7 linked regions of the Homo sapiens genome follow. The protein of the gene in region 1 purifies or fractionates together with the protein of each later gene. This does not show direct contact. Each region holds a gene or a part of one and is shown in the gene's direction. Other genes may lie near its edges.

Region 1 (3,500 bases):
TTCTTGTCATTTGCTGCTTTGGGATCAGTATCTATCTGGGATGACTATAGTGATTCTTAGTTTGGATTGAGGGTTGGGAGTAGTGGTGATGGTAATAGATTTGGATCATCGGGCACATAGAGAACATAATTACAGAATAAATTAGGAAGAGGGTCACCTGATGACCTGGATACTTAGGGACTAGTCAGAGAGCTCTGGTAGGAACACTACCTTTTCTGTAACTCTGCCTAGAACCCTGGCAATAACTGGGGGAGTCCCTCTTCTTGCTGCTACTGCAAAGCTCAGTCTCCATTGCCTTAGGCCTGTTTTCTCAGCCCCAGCCAGTCACATCATTTCCACTTGACCTTTGCAATTCAGCCTGACACCTTGCCACCTGATCCCTCTTCCTGCATTAGAGGAAGAGGAAGAGAAGGCTGTATTTAGGCCAGACTCCTTGTTTGTGATTTCTCTCCTTTGGTACCACCTTGATCCGTCCATACTTACGTAGGCCGGGGGAAGAATGAGCTCCCTGACTTTTTTTTTAATGATTTTTATTTTATTGTGGTAAGCATACAACATGAGAGCTACCCTCTAACCAGATTTTTTTCTTTTTTTTTAGAGACAGGGTCTGCTCTGTTGCCCAGGCTGGAGGGCAGTGGTGTGATCACAGCTCACTTCAACCTCTGCCCCCCAGGCCCAAGTGATCCTCCCACCTCAGCCTCCTAAGTAGCTGGGACTACAGGTGGGCACCATCACACCCAGCTAATTTTTGTGGAGCCAGGTTTCACCATGTTGCCCAGGCTGGTTTAGAACTCCTGGGCTCAAGTGATCCGCTTGCCTCAGCCTCCCAGAGCGCTGGGATTTCAAGCGTCAGCTACCATGTCTGGCCCAACAAATTTTTAAGTATACAATACGTTATTGTTGACTGTGTGTACAGTGTTGTACAGTGGATCTTCAGTGCTTATTCATCTTGCTTAACTGAAATTTTGTGCCTATTTATTTCCCTTAGCATATTGTCGTTAGTGTTCATCCACCTTGTCACATATTGCAGAATGCCCTTTTTTATTTAAAAAAGTCTAAATAGTATTCCACTGTGTGTATGTACCATGTTTTCTTTACATATTCATCTGTCAGTGAACATTTAGGTTGTTTCCACATCTTGGTTATTGTAAATAATGCTTCAGTGAACATGGGAGGGCTCATATCTCTTTGAGATCCTGATTTTAAATCTTTGGAATAATTAGCCAGAAGTAGGATTGCTGGATCATATGACAGTTTGATTATTTATTTATTTATTTATTTATTTACTGAGACAGGGTCTCGCTCTGTTGCCCAAGCTGGAGTGCAATGGCATGATCTCGGCTCACTGCAACTTCCACCTCACAGGCTCAGGTGATTCTCCCACCTCAGCCTCCCAAGTATCTGGGACCACAGGCATGTGCCACCATGCCTGGCTAATTTTTTGTATTTTTTTTTGTAGAGATGGGGTCTTGCCATGTTGCTCAGGCTGTTCTTGAAGTCCTGGGCTCAAGCAGTCTGCACGTCTTGGCCTCCCAAAGTGCTGAATTACAGGCGTGAGCCACCGTACCCGGCCTATATTTTTAATTTTTTGAGGAACCTCCATACTGTTTTGCAGAGCTGCTGCACCATTTTATATTCCCACCAGCAGTATGCAGAGTTTCCAATTTCTCCACAGCCCTGCCAACACTTGTTGTCTTTTGTTTTTTGGATAACAGCCATCCTGACAAGTGTGAGGTGATATGTCATCGGGGTTTTGATTTGCATTTCCCTGATGACTAGGGATGTTGAGCAACTTTTCATATGCCTGTTGGCCATTTCTGTGAATGGAGAAATGTCTATTCAAGTCTTTAGCCCATTTTTACATTGGGTTAATAGGATTTTTGCTGTTGAGTTGTAGGAGTTTCTAAAATATTTTAAAGATAAACCCCTTACCAAGGTATAGTTCGCAAATATTTTTTCCCATTCTGTAGCTTGCCTTTTTACTCTGTTAATTTTTTCCTTTACTGTACAGAAATTTTTAGTTTGATATAGTCTTACTTGTTTATTTTTGGTTGCCTGTGCCTTTTGGTGTCATATCAATGAGACCATTGCCAACCTTAACTTTAGAATTCATCCTCCTGGAATGTTCATGGTCTCATAGGCATCAGGTATTTCCTTATTAGCTTAAATATTTTCCTTTGGTCAACAGCAGTTTTTTTTTTTTTTTACAACGTTTAAATTTTATAGTTGGCTTTCTTTCCTTAAATCAACAGCAAACAACAAAAACCTCAGCCATACATGTAGGGCTCCAAGGCTTATGTCAGACATGTAGACAACATAACATATAGCAGCAATGCTTCTTTCAGTGGACTTTTTTTCACAGTTACTGGTTTACTGACTGGTTTACTGTTGAGAAGCAGATTATTTATATAGCCATTTGTCAACATGAGAGGTTTTTTAGTTCCTTATTGCCCCATACATTTCAGTCTTTAAAAAATTTTTTGTTTTGTTTTTACTTATCTTTAAAACCAAACTTTAAATATTGTAACTGCAGCCTTAACTCCTTAAGGGAAATCTTAAAAATGAACAAAACAATACAATACAACTTACAACCCTGCTACCCTATCAAAACTGTTTCGTTTTGTTGTATTCCCTCCTTTCTGTTCACATATATGTAATTTCCACAAAGTTGCAATCATACTGTGCATGCAATTAAGAATTTTTATTTGACATAGGTGATATTCATATTGTTCAAAAATTTTAGAAACCCTGGGAAGAATATAGATGACACAAGAGCAGGTGCCACATCACAAAGTCTATAAAAGGCCAAGGAAAGGGGAGGGAGGCCAGAGAAAAAGCTGACCTGGAGGTTAAAAAGGCAGAATTGACCAGCTGAGCTGGGCAGAGGAACCCACTTGGTAGTTTGGCTACCTTTAGTGTGTTTGGAGGAAAGGAGATTGTTGCCTCACCTCCTGGCACTGTTCGGTATTACCTCTGTCAAAGAAGTTTCCATCCAAACAAAACCCACTGTGTAGCTCCACCCTTTTTGTCTAAGATGTTAGTTGTCAATGTGGAAACTCTGAATATTAATATTTATTGTATCTAAAGAATTTTTAAAGAAATTTGCCTTTTTTTTTTCTCTTTCAACTTGTTTTCTGGTCACCTCTCTAAATAATGCATACATCTGTTCTAGGCTTATAAAATCATTGCTGCCTCTAAGTCCAAGCGAGTTGTTGGCATAAATGTGACTATCAGTATAAGAACCTGTTTTGTATGATTAAAGGTTTGCTAATTTATTAGCATTTGTAAGCAGATTCAAAATAGGGTTGAACCATTTAGACTATATTTTGAATTTATTAGCATTTGGTTTTATTTCTTTGCCAAAGGCCTGGACTAACAGAATTTTTTCTACCTCCCTTTTATTTTGCAGTTAAAAAAAATCCCTTAAAAATTACACCATAATACAAGGTGGTGTTTAATAAAATAATAATTTTTATTTTAGGAAATTTCACTTGTGTATA
Region 2 (3,500 bases), on another chromosome or scaffold:
GTAATCCCAGCACTTTGGGAGGCCGAGGCGGGTGGATCACTTGAGGTCAGGAATTCGAGACCAGCATGGCCAACATGGAGAAACCCCATCTCTACTAAAAATACAAAAATTAGCCGGGCGTGATGGTGCGCACCTGTAATCCCAGCTACTTGAGAGGCTAAAGCAGGAGAATCACTTGAACCCAGGAGGCGGGTGTTGCAGTGAGCTGAGATCACGCCACTGTCCTCCAGCCTGGGCAACAACGAGACTCCATCTCAAAAACAAAACAAAACAAAACAAAAAGGATACAGGACTGCATCAGACACCCTATCAGCAGCGTCTACACAGCAGTGCCCTGCCATGTGACAGCTCAGGTGTTAGAATGAAGCCACATGGGAGGGTCCAGAGCCAGCCTAGCCCAGAAGTCCTGGGCTCCATATAGGAATTGGCATCTCTAGTAACAGCCCCATGAGCTTGTAGAGGTCTCAGCAAGGGACATGCTCAGGAACAAGAAGCAGCACTCTCGGGGCAGCGCAAAACCTCCCGCAGGTATCCTGTCCTCGCAGTCCAGAATGAGTTTTCCAGTCTGAGGTCACTTTTTAGAAGCCATGTCGCCCACCTTTAACACAGCCGGCCGTCCACCTTTATCGGGTTTCCACAGAAAAAGTGGAAGACAGTTGCCCAAGGCCTTTCTTCCCCAGAGGAGAAAGGGCTTTGCTGACCCTTCAGTCCTAGTCTCTGACCAGCTGACAGCACAGCCCTGGCCCCCCACTGTCCAAGCATGCCTTGATGTCTTGGGGATTCACGTCACTGCTCAGAAGAGGCCCCCACGAAAGGCCAGGCATCTCCCCTCTGATTCCCCCACCACTGCCTTCAGCCCAGCCCCACTCTCTCACTTGGCAGGCGAGAAGATGTTCCAGATCGACAGCGGGAGGAACGCGCCCCTGCATTCGCCACCCTCAGAACATTACACCATCATCTTCAACACCTTCGTCATGATGCAGCTCTTCAACGAGATCAACGCCCGCAAGATCCACGGCGAGCGCAATGTCTTTGACGGCATCTTCCGGAACCCCATCTTCTGCACCATCGTGCTGGGCACCTTTGCCATCCAGGTAGTGAGGCCCCCACCCTAACCAGGCCCGGGGTGGGCAGCAAGCGGCTGGAGCCCCTGGGCAGGACCCTGAGAGCCCAGCCCTCTGTGCTGGTCCCTGATGGCCTCTCTCTCTCTCTTTCTCTGCTCCCCTGTGACCTCCAGATAGTGATCGTGCAGTTTGGAGGGAAGCCATTCAGCTGCTCTCCACTGCAGCTGGACCAGTGGATGTGGTGCATATTCATTGGGTTAGGAGAGCTCGTTTGGGGCCAGGTAAGTTCCTGGTAGGTCGCAGGAGGTGCCTGTTAGCAGGGCAAGGGAGACAGCACTGGATGGAGAATCCAGGACCCCCAGGAATGGGCTGCCAGACCCCAGGCAAGCTCCTCCCTATCTCTGGACATCTGAGCAAGGGGGTTTGTCCCAGGTCCTATACTGGTCGTCTGGGTACTACTGCTCTGATTTTTGCCTTATATCTATCTACCACTGCTCCTGTTGTTTATGTAATATTTTCTCTCAATCACGTCAGCTTTTTTAACTTAAATTTGTTTTTAAAGGCAACGTCCTGTTACTAAGACAACTGAAAAATCAGTATCACTTGTCATAAATGGAAGCTAACAAAAACATTAATGTAATGAGAATGACATTATTAAACTCCAGCTAGAAGCCATGGCCTGCCAGGGATTCAAGGCTGGAGCAGCTTGTTAGGAAGGGAGATGAATCAGTGGTCTGCGGGCGCTGGTGGCCGGCTGGCGTCAATCAGGATCCTTTAGAGCACTCAGAGGGAACGCAAGCAGGACACACTCTGCCACATTGCGGTGTTACTCAGTGCTGTGCCTGTGGCCATCTGTGGCCTCAGTGCTGTGCCTGCCCCAGCTCTGGGGCTCCTTGGGCTGGATGCTCTTTAGGGGCCCTTCCAGCTTTGTCCCAGAATATTCTCCCACCAATTCGTTTTTCTACGTTTGCCCAAGTTCCAGACCCTGTCACAGCTCTGAGAGCATGCAGCCCAAAGGCTCCTGACCCAGGACACAGGGCTTGGGAGGAGGGCCCAGAACCAACTCAGGGCCTAAGGGGCCTGATTCCCAAGGTGCTCACACATCCAGGCAGTGGGACCCCATGGGTGGGAGGCATTTTTCTTGCCTTCAAGCTGTCTGCAGGCTAGAGTGAGAAGCTACGGGGGCAAAAATTAACTAAAAGATAAATAAGAAAGTTTAGTTTCATCCAAAAGGACTTCCTGTAACCTTTGGGGCTGCTTTGGAGAGTGATAAACCCCTGGGCACCCTGGGGGCCAGGCCATCTTTATCCCACTGGGGCCCACCCCCTACAGGAGGCTCTTGGGGGCTGGGCCCAGTAACTGAGGGAAGGATTCAGAGGACAAAGGTTAATGCCAGCGGGCAGTGCTGACTTTACACTCCCAGGGAGCCCCCTGAGGCTGCATTCATGCCAGCGCCTGACTGCTCCTACAGGAAATGGAAGGGGCCTCTGATATCTGCCACCGCAGCTTTCCTGTAGGGCCTGCGTCTGGGTCCTCAGCCCCATGGACAAGCCTTTTGGGGAAGATTAGGAATGAAGGCATAGCTCTTTCCCATTCTGCCTTCCCAGTCCAGGATTGGCTGCCTTCAGGGTCCAGTGACCTCAGGAGGAATAAGGGACAGAGGAATAAGTAACCCCAGGAGAACCGAGGGCCAGCCACGGGCCAGGCTCATGCAGGACGAGTTAGACCCTCCACCGTGCCCAGTTCTCACCATGCCCAGAGCGGCCCCCACTTTACAGCTAGGAAAACCAAAGCTCGGTGAGGTTAAATGACTTGCCCGAGGCCACAGGACCAGGGTTGTCTGGGGTATTCAAAGCCACATCTGTCCAACTCCTAGAGGCCAAGATTGTCCACTATGTACCCTGACTCTGAATGAATGAATTAAAAAGCAAATTGCACTCCAGCCTGGGCAACAAGAGTGAAACTCCATCTCAAAAAAAAAAAAAAAAAAAAAAAAGACATTGTCAAAGACTGGGCTGAGGAACAGGTGAGGTGGGTGAAGGAGTAGATTGATCACATGCCTGGGTGAGCGGGTAGGAGGAGGGAGGTAGAGGAGCGGGTGTCAGGGAGAGAAGGCCACTGGGAAGGACAGCCCCACCGTCCTGACAGACAGGGTCCCTTGCAGGTCATCGCCACCATCCCGACCAGCAGACTCAAGTTCCTCAAGGAGGCAGGCAGGCTCACACAGAAGGAGGAGATCCCGGAGGAGGAGCTCAACGAGGACGTGGAGGAGATCGACCACGCGGAGCGGGAGCTGCGGCGGGGCCAGATCCTGTGGTTCCGAGGCCTGAATCGGATCCAGACACAGGTACAGGAGGCTCTTGGGGGCTGGGCCCAGGCCTGGCCGGGGCGGGCCAGGGGATGGAGGTGAGTGTGCTTGTGCTGCCCCCCAGGGCC
Region 3 (3,500 bases), on another chromosome or scaffold:
GCTGTCATTCGCTTGATTCCGTTCTCTCTCTCCACACACACTCGTGTTCTCATTCGCCTGATTCCGTTCTCTCTCTCCACACACACTCGTGTTCTCATTCGCTTGATTCCGTTCTCTCTCCACACACACGCGCTCTCATTCGCTTGATTCCGTTCTCTCTCTCCACACACACTCGTGTTCTCATTCGCCTGATTCCGTTCTCTCTCTCCACACACACTCGTGTTCTCATTCGCTTGATTCCGTTCTCTCTCTCCACACACACGCGCTCTCATTCGCTTGATTCCGTTCTCTCTCTCCACACACACTCGTGTTCTCATTCGCCTGATTCCGTTCTCTCTCTCCACACACACTCGTGTTCTCATTCGCCTGATTCCGTTCTCTCTCTCCACACACACTCGTGTTCTCATTCGCTTGATTCCGTTCTCTCTCTCCACACACACGCGCTCTCATTCGCTTGATTCCGTTCTCTCTCTCCACACACACTCGTGTTCTCATTCGCCTGATTCCGTTCTCTCTCCACACACACTCGTGTTCTCATTCGCTTGATTCCGTTCTCTCTCTCCACACACATGCGCTCTCATTTGCTTGATTCCGTTCTCTCTCCACACACACTCACGCGCTCTCATTCGCTTGACTCTGTTCTCTCTCTCCACACACACTCACGCTCTCATTCGCTTGATTCCGTTCTCTCTCTCCACACACACTCGCGCCCTCATTCGCTTGATTCCATTCTCTCTCTCCACACACACTCACATGCTCTCATTTGCTTGATTCTGTTCTCTCTCTACACACACTCACGCGCTCTCATTTGCTTGATTCCGTTCTCTCCCTCGACACACACTCGCTCTCATTCGCTTGATTCCGTTCTCTCTCTCCACACACTCACGCGCTCTCATTCGCTTGACTCTGTTCTCTCTCTCCACACACACTCGCGCTCTCATTTGCTTGATTCCGTTCTCTCTCTCCACACACACTCACGCGCTCTCATTCGCTTGATTCCGTTCTCTCTCCACACACACTCGTGCTCTCATTGGCTTGATTCCGTTCTCTCTCCACACACACACTTGCGCTCTTATTCGCTTGATTCCGTTCTCTCTCTCCACACACTCACGCGCTGTCATTCGCTTGACTCCGTTCTCTCTCCACACACACACTCACGTGCTCTCATTCGCTTGATTCCGTTCTCTCTCTCCACACACACTCGCGTTCTCATTCGCTTGATTCCGTTCTCTCTCCACACACACACTCGCGCTCTCATTCGCTTGATTCCGTTCTCTCTCTCCACACACACTCACGCTTTCATTCGCTTGATTCCATTCTCTCTCTCTCCACACACACACTCACGCTCCCCCGTGTACTGCAGTTGGCCCTCACTAGCCATGGGTTCCTGCAGCTGTGGATTTCACTAGCTGTAGGTTGAAAATATTTGGGGAAAAGATTTGTGTTCTTATCTGTACTGAACACATGCAGATTTTTTGGGCCAGTTTTCCCGAAGCAATGCCATGCGACAGCCATTGCCTGCGGCGACATCACGTTTGCGTTTGTAGGAACCTATGGTGATTTATGGTTTGGCAGGACGCGGGTGGGTTCTAGGCAGACACTGCACCAGTTTACGTCAGGGACATGAGCAAGGGGGTCCTGGCAGCCCTCCCCTGCGGGTGCCAAGGGTGGCCATGTGTGCGTTTGTGTATTTACATGCACACGTATGTAAATCACAGGCTGCGTTCTCAGGGGACTGGGGGCACGGCCCCGGTGGGTGGACACCGTGCCCTTTGACCCCAAACATTTCACTGGGTGTCTCCTGAGAACATAGTTTATATGCCCACAGCTCAGTGTTCAAGGGTTTTCTGGTCAGGCACATGTGTCACCTTCGGCTGATTTTCTCAGAGGTTCATAGAAACTGCATCCCAGACACGTCTCGCAGCCCCCTCCGCTATCACGTCTGCCTCCCGCTGTCCTGCAGCTGCCCGGACCCTGCCCCTCCCTGTCCCTCTCCTTGCCCTGGCCCTTCCATGTCCTCGGTGACCCTGGCTCCGGTAGGGTCAGGGTGGGATTGTGGCCCAGGAGGTGCCGGAAGGATCCATGTACTTTGGGGAGCCTGTGGCCCTGCCGGCTGAACCCCCACTGTACCTCTCCCGTCCTCGCACACCCCTGCCCTCCACCAACCCCAGCCCGCTCACGTTCTTCCCAGGGAAATGGGTGGTGGCCCTGGCCTGCCTGGCTGAGGTGATGCCTCCTCTGTCCCCACAGCCTATGGCGTTGGCCTCCTTGTGACATTCGTGGCACTGGCCCTGATGCAGCGTGGCCAGCCCGCTCTCCTCTACCTGGTGCCCTGCACGCTGGTGACGAGCTGCGCTGTGGCGCTCTGGCGCCGGGAGCTGGGCGTGTTCTGGACGGGCAGCGGCTTTGCGGTGAATACCAGTTTGCTCTGACTGTGAGAAATACTCGCCTAGTGAGCCCTAACTAGAGTTAAAGTTGAGTGAGACCTCCAGCCACAGCCAGCCCTGCGGCCGCGACGGGGCTCAGGGTCCTGGTACCTTCTGCTTTGGGTGTCATGCGCGTGAGGCCCCGGTGGAAGGACGTGCGTGCAGCTCCTGTGCCGGGTGGGATGCGGGGGTGCCAGGTGGGGCCCGGGGGTGCCGGGTGGGACGCGGGGGTGCCGGGTGGGGCCCAGGGGTGCCGGGTGGGACGCGGGGGTGCCGGCTGGGACTCGGGGGTGCCATGTCCTTTCTAAAGTTGCTTCTCCCAAATAGTAGTGCCCCACCTGCGTGGGCATCGGGCATCCATCGCCTCTCCTGCCGAGAGCGAGGCGCCTGACTGGGGGTGGGGCCGCAGGGCCCTGGACGAGGGGAGCAGGCCTGCCCTGGCTGTGGAAGCCCTGTCCCCTGTCCCCCTTGGCAAGGCAGGGGGTGGTTGGCAAGGGTTAAACGTGAGATGCAGGGAGGGCTTACGCCACGTCGGTTCTGCTCTTGTGATTTTTTGTGAACAGGAGTGGGTGGGACCCCCCCTTCCAGTGTGCCGCTCAGGTGACTTCCTGGGTTCCCGGGACTCAGGCGCATTGCGCCCGAGAGCTGCCCCCGCCCCTCCGGGCAGCGCCTCTTGGAGTCCATGACCGCCCAGGGAGCAGCCCTGCGCCATAGGGCGATCCTCAGGCTGTTGGGCATGGGTGCAGCTCCTCCCATAGCTGATCTCCCTCTGGGGGAGATGCCGCGCTTCTCAGCGGTGCTGGCCGCGCATGGGGTCCTACGTCATGTTTTTGTGGAGGTTAAACCACACCCGTCCCTGCCGCACTGGTGTGATGCATTGGGTCGAGCTGTGGTTCCAGTGCCGAGCTGGGCTCATGGGTCCCACAGATGGGACCATGGCCTGAGACCAGGCCCCAGGGAGAAGTCTCCTGGGGCCAGCACCCCCACCCCAAAGGTCTCCCCATTCTGATGGGCATTTCAGAAGGTTCAGGAGAAGCCGGGGACCAGGCCCAGGGGCGAGAGACGGTAGTCCAG
Region 4 (3,500 bases), on another chromosome or scaffold:
AGGTGGAGAACAATGGGATTCAAAATCAGTAAATTCGATTTGGACCAGATTATAGATTTTGTTACCAGGCAGAGACTTTTAGACTCTTTCCTTTAGGGAAAAGAGAATCAGCCTAATGAAAACAGCAAAGCCCATTTCATTTTTGTGTCCAAATTAAGGGCTTAATAACATTTTTATGTTCTTTGTGAGTATGTTTTAATGTGTATATAATTGCTTGTTTTTACATGGTTTGGGATTTGTGACAAGTCAAAAAAGGAAAAAATCCTAAATGTTAAATTTTGTGTCCCAAACTCCCAAACTTTTACTGGAGAGTTCCCTAAGATCCTCTGTTTAGAACCCAGTATTATCATTTTTTTAGAAACTATGTGTCTTTCAAGCAGGCACGGTGGCTCCTGTCTGTAATCCCAGCACTTTGGGAGACAGAAGGATTGCCTGAGGCCAGGAATTCTAGACCAACCTGGGCAACATAGTGAGACCTCATCTCTACAAAAAATATAAAAATTAGCCTGGCATGGTGTCACATACCTGCAGTTTCAGCTACTTGGGAGATTGAGGCGAGAGGATTGCTTGAGCCCAGGAGTTCAAGGCTGGAGTGAGCTGTGTTTGTGCCACTGTACTCCAACCTGGGTGACAGAGTGAGACCCTGTCTTAAAAGAAAAAAAAAAATTCTTCTGAGGGGTAACTACCACAGACTGGTTTTAAAATATTAAGCATCTGGCCAGACGCAGTGGCTCACATCTATAATCCCAGCACTTTGGGAGGTTTGAGGCGGGCAAATCACTTGAGGCCAGGAGTTCGAGACCAGCCTGGCCAACATGGTGAAACCCCATCTCTACTAAAGGAAAAAAAAAATTAGCTGGGTGTGGTGGCATGCACCTGTAATCCTAGCTATGCTGATGGGAGAATCTCTTGAACCCAAGAGGCAGAGGCTGCAATGAGCCAAGGTCACACTACTGCACTCTAGCCTGGGTGACAGAGTAAGACTGCCTCAAAAAATATAAACTAATTAAATTAAATATTAAGTATCATTGTCTTATGAAAACAATCAAGAAATTTAAATATAATTTGAAGAGTATAACCTTTCAAGCACAGTTAAAATTAGATACTATCTCAGTTCAATAACACTGACCTCAACTGAGAAAGTAAACATTGAGCACAAGCCTGACCAAAATAAAATAGGTTTATCTCCTGTTGAAATCAGGAATCTGCTTATTTGTTATTATTGCCTTTGGTAAGAGTTTTGATATAGATTATTAACTCATGAACAGTGTTTTAATTGACTTGCTAATGTATAAAACTTTTCATTTATTAGAATCGTTTCTTAAGTTACCTGTAAGGGGAGTAAGCCAATTACTGCTTTTGACTCCTAGTGGTCTTTTCATTTCTCATCTATTTAATTTGTGGATAATGTTTTTCAACCATCCTCTCTTTCTTGGAAAGCTTTCTCCTAGTAATGCCATTTATTGAATACTTACTACTTACTGTGAAAGAAAAGCTTTTCATCATATTTCTCATGTCACTGTGGTAAAAATTGGCAAGAAGTATTATCCATTGGAAATATGGCAATACATTTTCACTTATTTGTTTAATCACCAAAAATTTTATTGAATGACTCATATGTCATAGAAAGAGAGAACAAAAACAATTGTCCCTGCTTTTGAGGTCAATTTATGGTTTAGTGGCATAGGGATGGTTGGAGATGCTGGGAGTAGAAGCCAGAAAGTCAGCAGACCATTTCAGAACAATGTGATATGTGTATAAGTGTGTTCTGAGTAGGAAGGAAACACAGAGGAAAAGCACGTAAATCAGATGGGTGGTGGGAAGGAGCAGTAGGAGAGGGAAGAAGAGATGTTGGGAAAGACTTACAGGAGGTGATAACTCTTTTTTTTGTTGTTTGTTTGTTTGAGATAGAATCTCATTCTGTCACCCAGGCTGCAAAGCAGTGGCGTGATCTTGGCTCACTGCAACCTCCACCTCCCGGATTCAAGCGATTCTGCTTCCTCAGCCTCCCAAGTAGCTGGTATTACATGCACCTGCCACCATCCCCGGCTAATTTTTGTATTTTTGTAGAGACGGGGTTTCACCATGTTGGCCAGGCTGGTCTTGAATTCCTGACCTCAGGTGATCCAACTGCCTTGGCCTCCCAAAGTGCTGGGATTACAGGTGTGAGCCACTGCGCCCCGCCAGGAGGTAATAACTCTTAACTGGAATAAGAGTGAGTTAGTCTGTAAAGAGACAGGTTCTAGGAAAAAAGAACATCAACTGGATGTTCCTAATAATTTCAGTGATGTGCAACTGGAATAACCACAGATGTCTGAAAGCATCCCATCTCCTTTTAATGAACTCCAGTGTTTTAAAACTGAAGTATGAGAGCTGAACATCCAGTTACATGCTTTATTGTTTAAGTTTTCTAAAATTGTGAAATACAGTGTATCCAGAAAATTGTATAAAGCACATATATACAGTTTAACAAGTAGTTTGAAAGCCAACAGTCATGTAATCACCAATAGAACAATATCAGCATCCTGGAAGGCTTCTCTTATGCCTGCCCCTAATCACATGCTGCCCACTTCCCTGTAGTTTTGACATGTATGTATATCCCTAAACAATATATTTTAGTTTTGCCTGTTTTTAAACTCTATTTTATTGGGTTAATATTTTAATGTATTCTTTTGATCAATATAATGTTTGTGAGATTTGTCCATGTTGTTGCATATAGTTTAATCCAGTTCATCCTGATTAATATTTCATTACATGAATATACCACTATTCATTCTATGGGTTAATGCACATTCAAGAGTTCATTATGAACAGTGCTGCTAAAATTCTCCTGGTACTTGTCAGTTATCTTTTTTCAAACAATCTACTGTTATCCACTATACGTATGGGAATTATACGTATGAAATTCATATGTATTTTTAATTATAAAGTATGTTAATGCTACGCTTTTTCAAGCTGCTGATGATCCTCCATCAAGTATAGTTCATCTTTATTAGCAATAGGAGATTAGAAGTAAAAGCTTCTTTAAAGCTGGTAAAAAAAATTCACTAATCAAAAAGTTTTTTTTTGTTTTTTTTTTGAGACAGAGTTTCGCTCTTGTTACCTAAGCTAGAGTGTAGTGGCACGATCTTGGCTCACCGCAACCTCTGCCTCCCGCGTTCAATTCTCCTGTGTCAGCCTCCCAAGTAGCTGGGATTACAGGCATGCACCACCACGCCCGGCTAATTTTTTGTATTTTTAGTAGAAACGGGGTTTTACCACGTTAGCCAGGCTGGTGTCGAACTCCTGACCTCAGGTGATCCGCCTGCCTCGACCTCCCAAAGTGCTGGGATTACAGATGTGAGCCACCACGCCCAGCCCAAAAAGGTTTTTAAAATCAGTCACAGTCAGTCAGTGTCCAACTTGTTGATTATTGGCTATGAATGAAGAAAATTGGCCGCCTTAAAAAGTGACTCAATCCTAAAGCATTTTATTATAATTAAAATATTAATAGCAGGCCG
Region 5 (3,500 bases), on another chromosome or scaffold:
GATAAGTCTTTATTAAACTAAAATTAGCCAAAAACTCTGAGATGAAAGGTGTTTTATCCCCTTACTGCTATGTGTTCTCTGTCGAACTATGGAATATGGCCCCGGGATAAAGGACATTATTTGAGCTATTAGATTGTTGCATGTAGAGTAATTATATGTTGTTATATATACTTTCATAGATTCCTTGATTTCAGAGTAAGATTTACTAATTTCCTTTGACTGACAGACATGTTAACTTCATTTCAGATGCAACAGTCTCTTACCATGGGAAATGAGTTTTAAAAGGAACGGCCACTTATAACTATTGGTCTTCTGTAATATTGAACAAAATAATATTTGGTTTTTTTCCCTTACATTTTACACATGAATACAGTAAAATTGATGTTTTCACTTTTTTATTCTGGAATTTTGTAATGGATGAGCAAAAAACAATAAAAGGACTGAGGATCAGAAAGCAGAAACAAACATTTAGGTTTTTGCATCTCGGGCAAGAGTATTGACCAGATGGAAGGGAATAATTATTTTCTAGTAGCTGTCATGATATGTAATAAAGGTACTAATAGTAGCTTATTTGGGACTAGGTGGAATCTGAGGTGACATTGCCAGGAAAATAACATACAATGGTTATGGGAATAATTTTCATAAAGATAAATAACTTTAAAAAATTCACTTTTTAGCTTTTAGAAATGTTATCTATACATACCACATATATTGTTGTCTTGTTAAAATTTTTTATTATAGAAATTATCAAACATAGGAAAGTAGAGAGAATGATATACTTACTGGCCAGTTTTGACAATTACCAACTCTCGTGGTCCATCACATTTCATTTATATCTTAACACAAGAAATGGTTCTGTTATAAATGGGGACATAGGACAGGTAATCGAATCGAATTTTTGTATTTGTATTTTTCAGAATACGGTATACTCAATAGTGTCCAATATCTAATTAAATCTGAATGGTCAGTTTTTATGTTCTTCGTTGATTCTTTAGTGGCATATACATTTTAATTTTTCTGGTGGTAGTTTGTGTATTTTACAGCAGGTGCCCAAAGATAGTGTCTCTCAAATTTTGCTGTCTTCAGAAATCACAGGTATTATTATTAACTACTTTACAGTTTTCAGAATGTATTTACATATGACCTCATTTGATTCTCACAATAATCCTGTGTGGTGAGTAAGGCAGACAATTGTACTTTTTTTTGTTTTTTGTTTTTTGTTTTTTTTCTGGTAGGCAAAGTGATTTGTCTAGGCCCTAAGGTCATATAGCTAGCAGCTTTTTTAGCCCAAACTGGACTTTAGGTGGCTTCTAGATTTTGCTCATTGCTCTTCTCATTATACACGTTTATGTAAGTTTATGAAAGTTATGTATGGAAAATCAGTTTTGATCAGAGTAAATTTAATAGAGAAATATGAATGGGTTTGTTTGGGTTGAGCTTTATAAATTTAATCATTACTTATATTTGGTGTAATACAAACAGTTTGTGTTTTGATTTACTTAACAGCTGAGTGAATGTGAACGTATCTGAAATACTATATTTTTAATATTGTGGATTTTTTTAAGTTAGGAATTTTGATTTCAAAGAACTGTTGGCCTAGGGGTGTCTTAAATCTTGAATAAAAATAAAATGTGCTGTACTAAAAGTTTCTTCTTTAAATTTCTGCTGTAACTTTTTATGCACTTGTTTTTATACTATAACATGTTTATTACCTAAATCTCTTTGAAATATTCATTTGTTCTGTAATGAAATTTAGTTTAAAAGGTTCCAAATGAGGAGGTTTTAGTTCCTGAAATCCAAAACCTGGTTATAAATCTCACAAGAAAGGTGTGGTTCTCCAGCATTAATGTGCATGAAGAATCACCTGGGGGAGTTACTGAAAGTGCAGATTCCTTGGCATTGCCCCTGGAATTTTGATTCAGCAGATTTGAGGTGGGGCCAAATGCTACAGTAGTCTGCATTTTGAGAAACATTGACATTGCATTTATAACTAAGTTAAAGTTACATGGTAGAGATACCTAAATCAGTAGCAAAGTTTGATTTGTTGATGTCGATGGTTTTTGTGACAATCCTAGAACTGATAAATTGAAAATATTTCTGTTATCTATGTATGCCCAGTCTTTCAGAAGATCCATCTGTGGTTACTTAAGTTACTTATTAAGCACTGTAAACTATTAGAGAATGTTCTTTTATTTTCATGTCTTAATGTCTGCCATTTTCAAATGACTTAGACACCAGAGTTTATATTCATAAAAATAATGCATGCTGTATCCTTACAGTAGTGTGTGTTTATCCTTTAGTCTAGCTCTTTGTTAGAAGAAAAGATCGGATATTCCTTCAGACTAAAAGGACATAAGTTAGTGGATAGATAGCTCTCTTTAATTTTAGTTAACAAGCAGTTGCTCTTTCAAAAACAGCAAGTAGATCTTCCAAGAATATTAGTGATAGCATACTAATTGATAATTTACTATTTTATGCATTAAAACAGAAGTTACTGCTGTCTCACTTAAATGTTAAATAACCGTTTGTGTAGTTCACCAATCTACTCTGACTTTTGGAACTATTTTATCTAATACCATATCCACGTGAATTACCTGCCTTTAATAATTTTCCTCTTTAAGACCAGTTTTGAAATGCAGTTGTTTTTTGCTTCATTTATAACAGTATAGCAAATAGCCTGTATCTGCATTTAAAATATATTTTATAATAAAATTAATTTCAAAGCAGGTTCATCTCAAGACTGTTGGGAACCTGTTTTTGTTTGTTCCAAAACTTAGTCTTGTTGGCTACACCTTAAGGTTTATTTAGGAATCATAGCTTGTAATTTACTAAAGCTTATGGTAATCTAAATTAATAAATATTTTTGGCAGAGAGGTCCAAATAAACTGTGGGCACATTTTTTTTTGCCATATTTTTAAAAGCTATTTTCTATTAAATTTTTCCTAGGACAGTGTCAGCTATTCCAAATCGTATGTGGTGTTTTTAGTTATAAGAATATTTGGTATTTCTAAGTACAGTGACTTCCAACAATATGGTTTCTTAAAATATGGGATACCTGCTTTTGTAGTAATACTACTGTCACCTGGGCCTCTGAGGGAACAAATAAAGGTAGTGTTGAATGGACCAATGCTTGCTTACACTGTGAAATCTGAGATTACACTGCCTAACTGTAAACTGGCATGACTACTGTACAGACCTGATAAATTTAGGAGTCAAATTTATGTTTTCTGAAAAAAATAGGTCTTAAAGAAGATTTGACTGTTTAACTTGAAAGATGCTTTTTAAATACTTTTTTATTAACAATGTGGATCTATTATTCATTGTATTAACCCTGTGAGTGAGTTCTCTCTCAGGAGGATTTTAAATAATAATCTTGTACTCTCAAAACTCTCAGATCTGCTGCTTTAATCTACCTTTCATATTTGTGCCAGAATTTTCTTTTGTTTTTCAATAACCTATTTTAAACCACAGTTTCTTCACTAAAACTTTCATCTTTTTTT
Region 6 (3,500 bases), on another chromosome or scaffold:
CTGAGACTTTGTATATAAGAATGAAATATCTTTCTATTATTCAAGTCTATTTTTAAGTCTTTCAAGAGACTTTAAACTTTTCATATAGGTTTTGCCATGGTATTTTTTGTTCTTTTTGTTGCTGTTGTAAAGGTCTTTTCAATTATATTTTAACTTTTTAGTATTTTAACATGTGTATTTTGTTTGTATATGACAACTGGTGTTTAATTTTATATAATCTGGCTACTTTACTAAACTCCTATCTATAGTAATTTTTCCATTTACTCTTATGAGTTTTTCTAAATATCCAACAATATCACCAGCAAATGCAGTTTTACTACTTTTTTTTTTTTTCTTGAGACAGTTTCACTCTTTTGCCCAGGCTGAAGTGCAGTGGCTCACTGCAGCCTCTGCCTCCCAGGATCTAGCGATTCTCCTGCCTCAGCCTCCCGAGTAGCTGCTATTACAGGCATGAGCCACCACACCTGGCTAATTTTTGTATTTTTAGTAGAGATGGGGTTTTGCCGCCTTGGCCAGGCTGGTCTTGAACTCGTGACCTCAGGTGATCTGCCCGCCTCGGCCTCTTAAAGTGCTGAGATTACAGGCGTGAGCCACAGTGCCCAGCCTTACTACTTCTTTAACAGTTCTTATATCTGTAGATACCTTTTCTTGTCTAGTCTTTTTAATCTGCTTTTACCTGAAGTCACCTTCATTCTCTTGATTAGTTATTTTTGTCAAGAACTTTTTGATTCTTAATTTTTGACATAATCAAAATTTCATGTAAGATTTCAGAAGTGACTTTATAGAATGTTTTTTTGTAACAGCTCTGAGATATGATTCATATGCCATATAATTGTCATTTGAAGTGTACAATTCAAGGTTTTCAGATTTGTACAACCACCACCATAATCAATTTTAGAATATTTTTATCACTTCCAAAAGAAAGCTCATCCCCTTTAGCCATTACCTCTCCCTTTTCCCATTTTGCCAGCCCTGGGCACCCACTGTATTAATTATCTTACTGCATAACAAAACATAGCAGGTTAAAACAACAAACATGCTATTCCGTGTATGTGCCTGTCTGCCTCTCTGTCTCTGTATGTCTTGGTTTGCCTCACATTGCATCCTCTCTCATTTCTACTCTGCATTTGTCTTCTGTTTTCCTTTCTGTTACCTTCATTCTCTGCATTTGTACCCAATGGCCAGTAGCTTCTGAATCCACACAGCCAGTACAGCTCCAGTGCCATGCCCATATAACTGATTCAGTATGGCAAGTTCAGATACTCAGGAGGGAGACTTAATTTGTTCATCCTGGTCCATTTAGATTTGGCAAGTACAATCACCTTTCTTTTTTTCTTTTTTTTTGAGATGGAGTTTCGCTCTTGTTGCCCAGGCTGGGGTGCAGTGGTGCGATCTCAGCTTACTGCAACCTCTGCCTCCCAGGTTCAAGCAGTTCTCCTGCCTCAACCTCCTGAGTAGCTGGGATTACAGGCATGCGCCACCACGCCTGGGTAATTTTGTATTTTGTATTTTTTATTTTTTTTGAGACAGAGTCTTGCTCTCTTGCCCAGGCTGGAGTGCATTGGCGCGATCTCGCCTCACTGCAAGCTCCGCCTCCTGGGGTCACGTTATTCTCCTGCCTCAGCCTCCCGAGTAGCTGGGACTACAGGTGCCCACCACCACGCCCAGCTAATTTTTTATATTTTTAGTAGAGATGGGGTTTCACCGTGTTAGCCAGGATGGTCTCGATCTCCTGACATCGTGATCTGCCCACCTTGGCCTCCCAAAGTGCTGGGATTACAGGCGTGAGCCACCATGTGGACCTGGCCTATATTTCTATTAGAAAGCCATTTCCAAAACATTGGTCACACCAGAATTCAACCTTATATAGAAAATATAGTGTTTTTAGTGATTTCATTTTGAAATATTTTGTACATAAAAACAAAATGAAACTATTTTGAGTACTTTATGCCTATACAGACTACTAGTAACTGAACATTCATATAACGTAGTATGTTTTGTAAAATGTTTAGCGGTTGCAAACTGGTTTGCCAGATATGTTTTGTTTAGTAAAACTTGAGTTGTAATCCTTTCAAAGATGGAAGTAATATATAGAAACGGACGTTTCTGCCCTCTTGAAAAAGATGTGGCAAGAGCAGGCCCACATTTTACATGGCAACAGTTGATAAGGGCTAAGCTGTCTTCCCCAGATAGATGGAAGAGGACATTGTCCAGCTTGCTGCAATCCACACCTGGGTCTCTTTATTCAGTCATGTTCTTTGTACTTTCTAAGTAACTGAGTTTGCAGTCCTCCATCCCCATTCCATTCTAATTGTACATAATTAAGTAATTACTAATTGCCAGGGGTTGTGCTTTATATATATTATTTAATCTTCACAACTTGTTTTATATGAAGAAAACTAGTCTCAGAAATTTAACTATATAGTATGTGGTAGAGCTGGAGTTGATTTGAATCGCCAGGTGTTTGTGCGGTCTGGGCTCTTGAGCACAGTTCTTTACTACTTCACAAATATGTTTTACTTTGTGGTTCATAGTTATTTTCATGGAGAGTTTTTAGTTCTTCTAGTGTTTTGCCTCTGTCAAATTACTGCCACTATCATAACTATTGCCTTTTAAGCTTGAACAACTATAACTATAGTTGATCAGTAAGGAAAACCTTACTTATCTCCTTGCCACGAGTTTTCCTTTACTATATACAGAAAAGCCTAAAGAAAATAAAGATCACCATAATCACCAGACATTACTGCTGCTAAAACTTTTCTTCTAATCTCCCTAAAAAATGGGACTATTTTCTGTCTCTCTACACACACACACACGATTTCATAATAATTTTTCATGTTTTGTAATAACCTCTGCACCAGGATTTCTTTTCTTTTTTTTTTTGTTTGAGATGAAGTCTTGCTCTGTCACCAGGCTAGAGTGCAGTGGTGCAATCTCGGCTCACTGCAGCCTCCGCCTCCTGCACCAGGATTTTTAAAACTGATTTTCATAGAATTGTAATATTCTGTAGGCTGTTAAAAGTATACTGTAAATTAAAATGCTTCAAGGTCAGGAAAGTTTGGGAAGTGCTGAGTTTATTCCCTTTTTTTTGCTTTTAGATTGTTTTTGTGTTTTACTATGATAATGATGTGATCAATATATTTGTACATATATTTTTGTGCACAGTATTTTCTAACTAAAGGCCCATAAGAATTGTGTCAAAGGATGTGAACATTTATAAGTTTTTTTGTAAATACAAACCTATGATATACATACGTATTAATATTTATGTAACTTCAAAATAAGATTACACTTTAGATCAAGCTTGTCCAACCCGTGGCCTGTGGGCCGCAGGTGGCCTACGGCTTTGAATCTGGTCCAGCACAAATTTGTAAACTTTGTTAAAACATGAGGTTTTTTTTTTTGTTTTCTTTAGCTCATCAGCTGTCATTAGTGTTAGTATATTTTATGTGTGGGCCAAGATAATAATTCTTCCAGTATGGCCCAGGGAAGCCAAAAGA
Region 7 (3,500 bases), on another chromosome or scaffold:
AGGCTCAACCAGGTGTGGTGGCTCACACCTGTAATCACAGCACTTTGGGAGGCCGAGGTGGGCGGATCACTTGAGGTCAGGAGTTCGAGACCAGCCTGGCCAACATGGCAAAACCTTGCCTCTACTAAAAATACAAAAATTAGCCAGGTGTGGTGGCACTCACCTGTAATCCCAGCTACTTGGGAGGCTGAGGCAGGAGAATTGCTTGAACCTGGGAGGCAGAAGTTGCAGTGAGCCAAGATTGTGCCACTGAACCCCAGCCTGGGTGACAGAGTGGGACTGTCTCAAAAAAAACCAAAACAAAACAAAACAAAAAATGGCCAGGCAAGGTGGCTCATGCCTGTAATCCCAGCACTTTGGGAGGCCAAGGCAGGCAGATCACAAAGATCACGAGGTCAAGAGATTGAGACCATCCTGGCCAACATGTGAAACCCCATCTCTATTAAAAATACAAAAATTAGCTGGGCGTGGTGGCGTGCACCTGTAGTCCCAGCTACTCAGGAGGCTGAGGCAGGAGAATCGCTTGAACCTGGGAGGCAGATGTTTCAGTGAACTGAGATCGTGCCACTGCACTCCTGCCTGGCGACAGAGCAAGACTCTGTTTAAAAAAAAAAGCACGGTGTGGTGGTGCACATCTGTAACTCCAGCTACTTGGGAGGCTGAGGCAGGAAAATCACTTGAACCCAGGAGGCAGAGTTTGCAGTAGGCTGGGATCGCGCCACTGTACTCCAGGTTGGGTGAGCAAGACTGTCTTAAAAAAAAAAAAAAAAAAAGGCACCGAGGTGGGCGGATCACAAGGTCAGGAGATCGAGACCATCCTGGCTAACATGGTGAAACCCCATCTCTACTAAAAATACAAAAAATTAGTTGGGCGTGGTGGCACGTGCCTGTAGTAGTCCCAGCTACTCGGGAGGCTGAGGCAGGAGAAACCCGGGAGGTGAAGATTGCAGTGAGCCGAGATCGCGCCACTGCACTCCAGGCTGGGCGACGAAGTGAGACTCTGTCCAAAAAAAAAAAAAAGAGGCTAGGCTTATAGGTTCCCCTGGCATTATTTTATTTTTTTTTTCATTTTTGCCTTTTGAAACTGAGACTGTCTCAGACAGTATGGAAGCACTATTTTAGAAAGACCTAAGTAGGCCCATACTGAGTGCTGAGAAACCTGTTGCGTGTTTCTCTCTCTGAGGACGTTAACTCCCGTTCATCCATAGATGAACGCAGATCTTCTGCGGTAGATGTGTGCATGAATTTTGCCAATTCATTTCAAGTATTTTGGGATACTTGGATTTGAATTCAATGTAAGTGGGTGATGATGACACTGCCATGTAGGTTCAAACAGATTACAGAATGTTTAGTTCTGGACTTGCCTCATTACCTGCTAAAGAAGTTGCCCACTTGTGAGCATCACCAATACTCTGTATGATAGTTTGATGACATTATAGTGCAGATTTTGGAATGGTATACTTTTGGATAAATTCTCTCAGGATTATGGAGGAATATTTTGATGAGCATAAGAATTTCATCTCTGATAGGTCAAACCATATTCATGTTAAATTATTAGATGAAGTAATGATCCTGGAGGAAGGAATGAATAGTGCTTATGTGGCTTTTTTGCTTATTTTTCAGTTTCAAAAGAAGTTATATCACAGAATGCCAACATAACCTAAATGTCAAAGTTTCTTAAGTTATATGCTGTATTTGTGGCCTACATGGTCAGTGATCAAAGAAAATTTATAAAAATATTAGGAAGATGGGTAAATTATTCCTTTGAAAACTTTAATTGTGGTAAAATACACATAAAATTTACCATGTTAACCACTTTTAAGTATACAGTTTAGTGGCATTAAGTACATTCACATTGTTGTGGAACCAGTCCATCTCCAGAACTTTGTCACCTTGCAGAACTGAAACTCCATATCCATTAAACAATAACTCTCCATTCCCCCTCCTCCAGCCCCTGGAAGCCACCATTCTACTTTCTATGTATTTGACTACCGTAGGTACCTCTCATAAGTGGAATTAGACAGGATTTGTCCTTTTGTGACTGGCATATGTCACTTAGCATAATGTCTTCAGAGTTCATCCATGTTGTAGCATGTGTCAGAATTTCCTGCCTCTTTAAGGCTGAATAATAGTCCATTTTATATATGTACCACATTTTGTTTATGCATTCATTTGTTGACGGATGCTTGGTTTGCTTCTACCTTTTGGTCATTGTGAGTAATGCTGCTATAAAAAACATGAGTCTACAAATATCTTTCAAGTCCCTGCTTTCAGTTCTTTTGGATATACCCAGAAATGGAATTGCTGGGTCATACGGCAATTCTATTTTTAAGTTTTCGAGAAACTCCCATACTGTTTTCCATGGCAGCTTCACCATTTTATTTTCCCACCAACAATGCATAAGGATTCCAATTTCTCCATATCCTCAACATACTTGTTATGTTCTCTTTTTTGTTTTTGTTTTTTTGATAGTAGCCATCTAATGGGTGTGAAGTGGTATCTCATTGCAGTATTGATCCCTATTTCCCTAATAATTAGCGATGTTGAGCATCTTTTCATGTGCTTATTGGCCATTGATATTTTCTTTAGAGAAAATGTGTATTCATGTTCTTTGTTCATTTTTGAATTGAGTTTTTTGTTGTCGAGTTGTAGGAGTAATTTCTTCATGATGTTTACATTTTCAACTTTTTACTATGGAAATTTCAAACACATACAATAATAAAGTAGTGTAAGAAATTTTATGTACCATCACCCAGCTTCAGCAATTGTGAATGAATGGCCAATATTATTTCACTTATACTCACCACATTATTTTGAAACGAATCCTAGAAATCATATATTGATAAATATTTCTATGTGTAACGCTAAAAGAAAACAAATGGTATGATATTTCAAGAAGATATCACATGAGGAATATATCATGAGAGCTCTCTTGTAATCTGTGAGGAGTATGGAAACAGGATTTGTCAGTGTCGGGCTGTGGATCCATAACTAACTGTCCTTTGTATTGATTGGGCTCACTCTTGCCAAGCCTCATGCTTTGTTTTTGTAGCAGTGATAGATTCCTGTTAATCTATCCTTGTTTTCTTACCTGATCCCATGGGTGACCACTTGTTAGGCAAGATTTATTTGGCTTAATCATACTATCTGTGTCCTGAAAATAGGGCAGTGCTTCCTGGTTTGGGCAGAAACCAAGGCCCAGTTGAACTGCTCTAGGGAATTTTGCTCTAAGCTGATGCCACCAGTAGTTTAACTGCACATAACTTCAAATTGTTTTATCCTAGACATTAATTATATTTCATAATTTTATGGTAGATTATAAAGTAAATCCTACCATGAGAATAACTTCATATTTTTATTAAGAAAGAAAAAAAGTCTCCAAGAGATTCAAGTGACATCCTCAGATTTATTTGTTTTTAGGGCTTTAAAATAATTATTTTGGTTTCTTAAAATGTTCTTGTTTTACCTTTAAGCAAGTACAACAGCTTAGAAGAATTATA

Evidence for each region.
Region 2: the proteins of ENTPD7 (region 1) and ATP2B2 purify together in Homo sapiens (affinity purification with mass spectrometry; 2 studies listed by BioGRID and IntAct, with this or other methods). This does not show direct contact.
Region 3: the proteins of ENTPD7 (region 1) and SPPL2B purify together in Homo sapiens (affinity purification with mass spectrometry; 2 studies listed by BioGRID and IntAct, with this or other methods). This does not show direct contact.
Region 4: the proteins of ENTPD7 (region 1) and GOLPH3L purify together in Homo sapiens (affinity purification with mass spectrometry; 2 studies listed by BioGRID and IntAct, with this or other methods). This does not show direct contact.
Region 5: the proteins of ENTPD7 (region 1) and ATP2B1 purify together in Homo sapiens (affinity purification with mass spectrometry; one large-scale study listed by BioGRID and IntAct). This does not show direct contact.
Region 6: the proteins of ENTPD7 (region 1) and GOLPH3 purify together in Homo sapiens (affinity purification with mass spectrometry; 2 studies listed by BioGRID and IntAct, with this or other methods). This does not show direct contact.
Region 7: the proteins of ENTPD7 (region 1) and NDFIP1 purify together in Homo sapiens (affinity purification with mass spectrometry; 2 studies listed by BioGRID and IntAct, with this or other methods). This does not show direct contact.

Annotation. Positions count from the first base shown.
Region 1 is NC_000010.11:99,680,009-99,683,508, forward strand, and holds part of ENTPD7 (ectonucleoside triphosphate diphosphohydrolase 7), read left to right. Parts: intron 1-3,500. UniProt on the Homo sapiens protein: Catalyzes the hydrolysis of nucleoside triphosphates and diphosphates in a calcium- or magnesium-dependent manner. Preferentially hydrolyzes nucleoside 5'-triphosphates, with substrate preference for UTP > GTP > CTP.
Region 2 is NC_000003.12:10,338,087-10,341,586, reverse strand, and holds part of ATP2B2 (plasma membrane calcium-transporting ATPase 2), read left to right. Parts: intron 1-882; coding exon 883-1,094; intron 1,095-1,237; coding exon 1,238-1,345; intron 1,346-3,228; coding exon 3,229-3,411; intron 3,412-3,500. UniProt on the Homo sapiens protein: ATP-driven Ca(2+) ion pump involved in the maintenance of basal intracellular Ca(2+) levels in specialized cells of cerebellar circuit and vestibular and cochlear systems.
Region 3 is NC_000019.10:2,349,184-2,352,683, forward strand, and holds part of SPPL2B (signal peptide peptidase-like 2B isoform 2 precursor), read left to right. Parts: intron 1-2,250; coding exon 2,251-2,411; coding exon of another isoform or gene 2,412-2,432; exon of another isoform or gene 2,433-2,474; intron 2,475-3,500. UniProt on the Homo sapiens protein: Intramembrane-cleaving aspartic protease (I-CLiP) that cleaves type II membrane signal peptides in the hydrophobic plane of the membrane. Functions in ITM2B and TNF processing.
Region 4 is NC_000001.11:150,687,155-150,690,654, reverse strand, and holds part of GOLPH3L (Golgi phosphoprotein 3-like), read left to right. Parts: intron 1-3,500. UniProt on the Homo sapiens protein: Phosphatidylinositol-4-phosphate-binding protein that may antagonize the action of GOLPH3 which is required for the process of vesicle budding at the Golgi and anterograde transport to the plasma membrane.
Region 5 is NC_000012.12:89,702,339-89,705,838, reverse strand, and holds part of ATP2B1 (plasma membrane calcium-transporting ATPase 1), read left to right. Parts: intron 1-3,500. UniProt on the Homo sapiens protein: Catalyzes the hydrolysis of ATP coupled with the transport of calcium from the cytoplasm to the extracellular space thereby maintaining intracellular calcium homeostasis.
Region 6 is NC_000005.10:32,146,820-32,150,319, reverse strand, and holds part of GOLPH3 (Golgi phosphoprotein 3), read left to right. Parts: intron 1-3,500. UniProt on the Homo sapiens protein: Phosphatidylinositol-4-phosphate-binding protein that links Golgi membranes to the cytoskeleton and may participate in the tensile force required for vesicle budding from the Golgi.
Region 7 is NC_000005.10:142,111,779-142,115,278, forward strand, and holds part of NDFIP1 (NEDD4 family-interacting protein 1), read left to right. Parts: intron 1-3,500. UniProt on the Homo sapiens protein: Activates HECT domain-containing E3 ubiquitin-protein ligases, including NEDD4 and ITCH, and consequently modulates the stability of their targets. As a result, controls many cellular processes.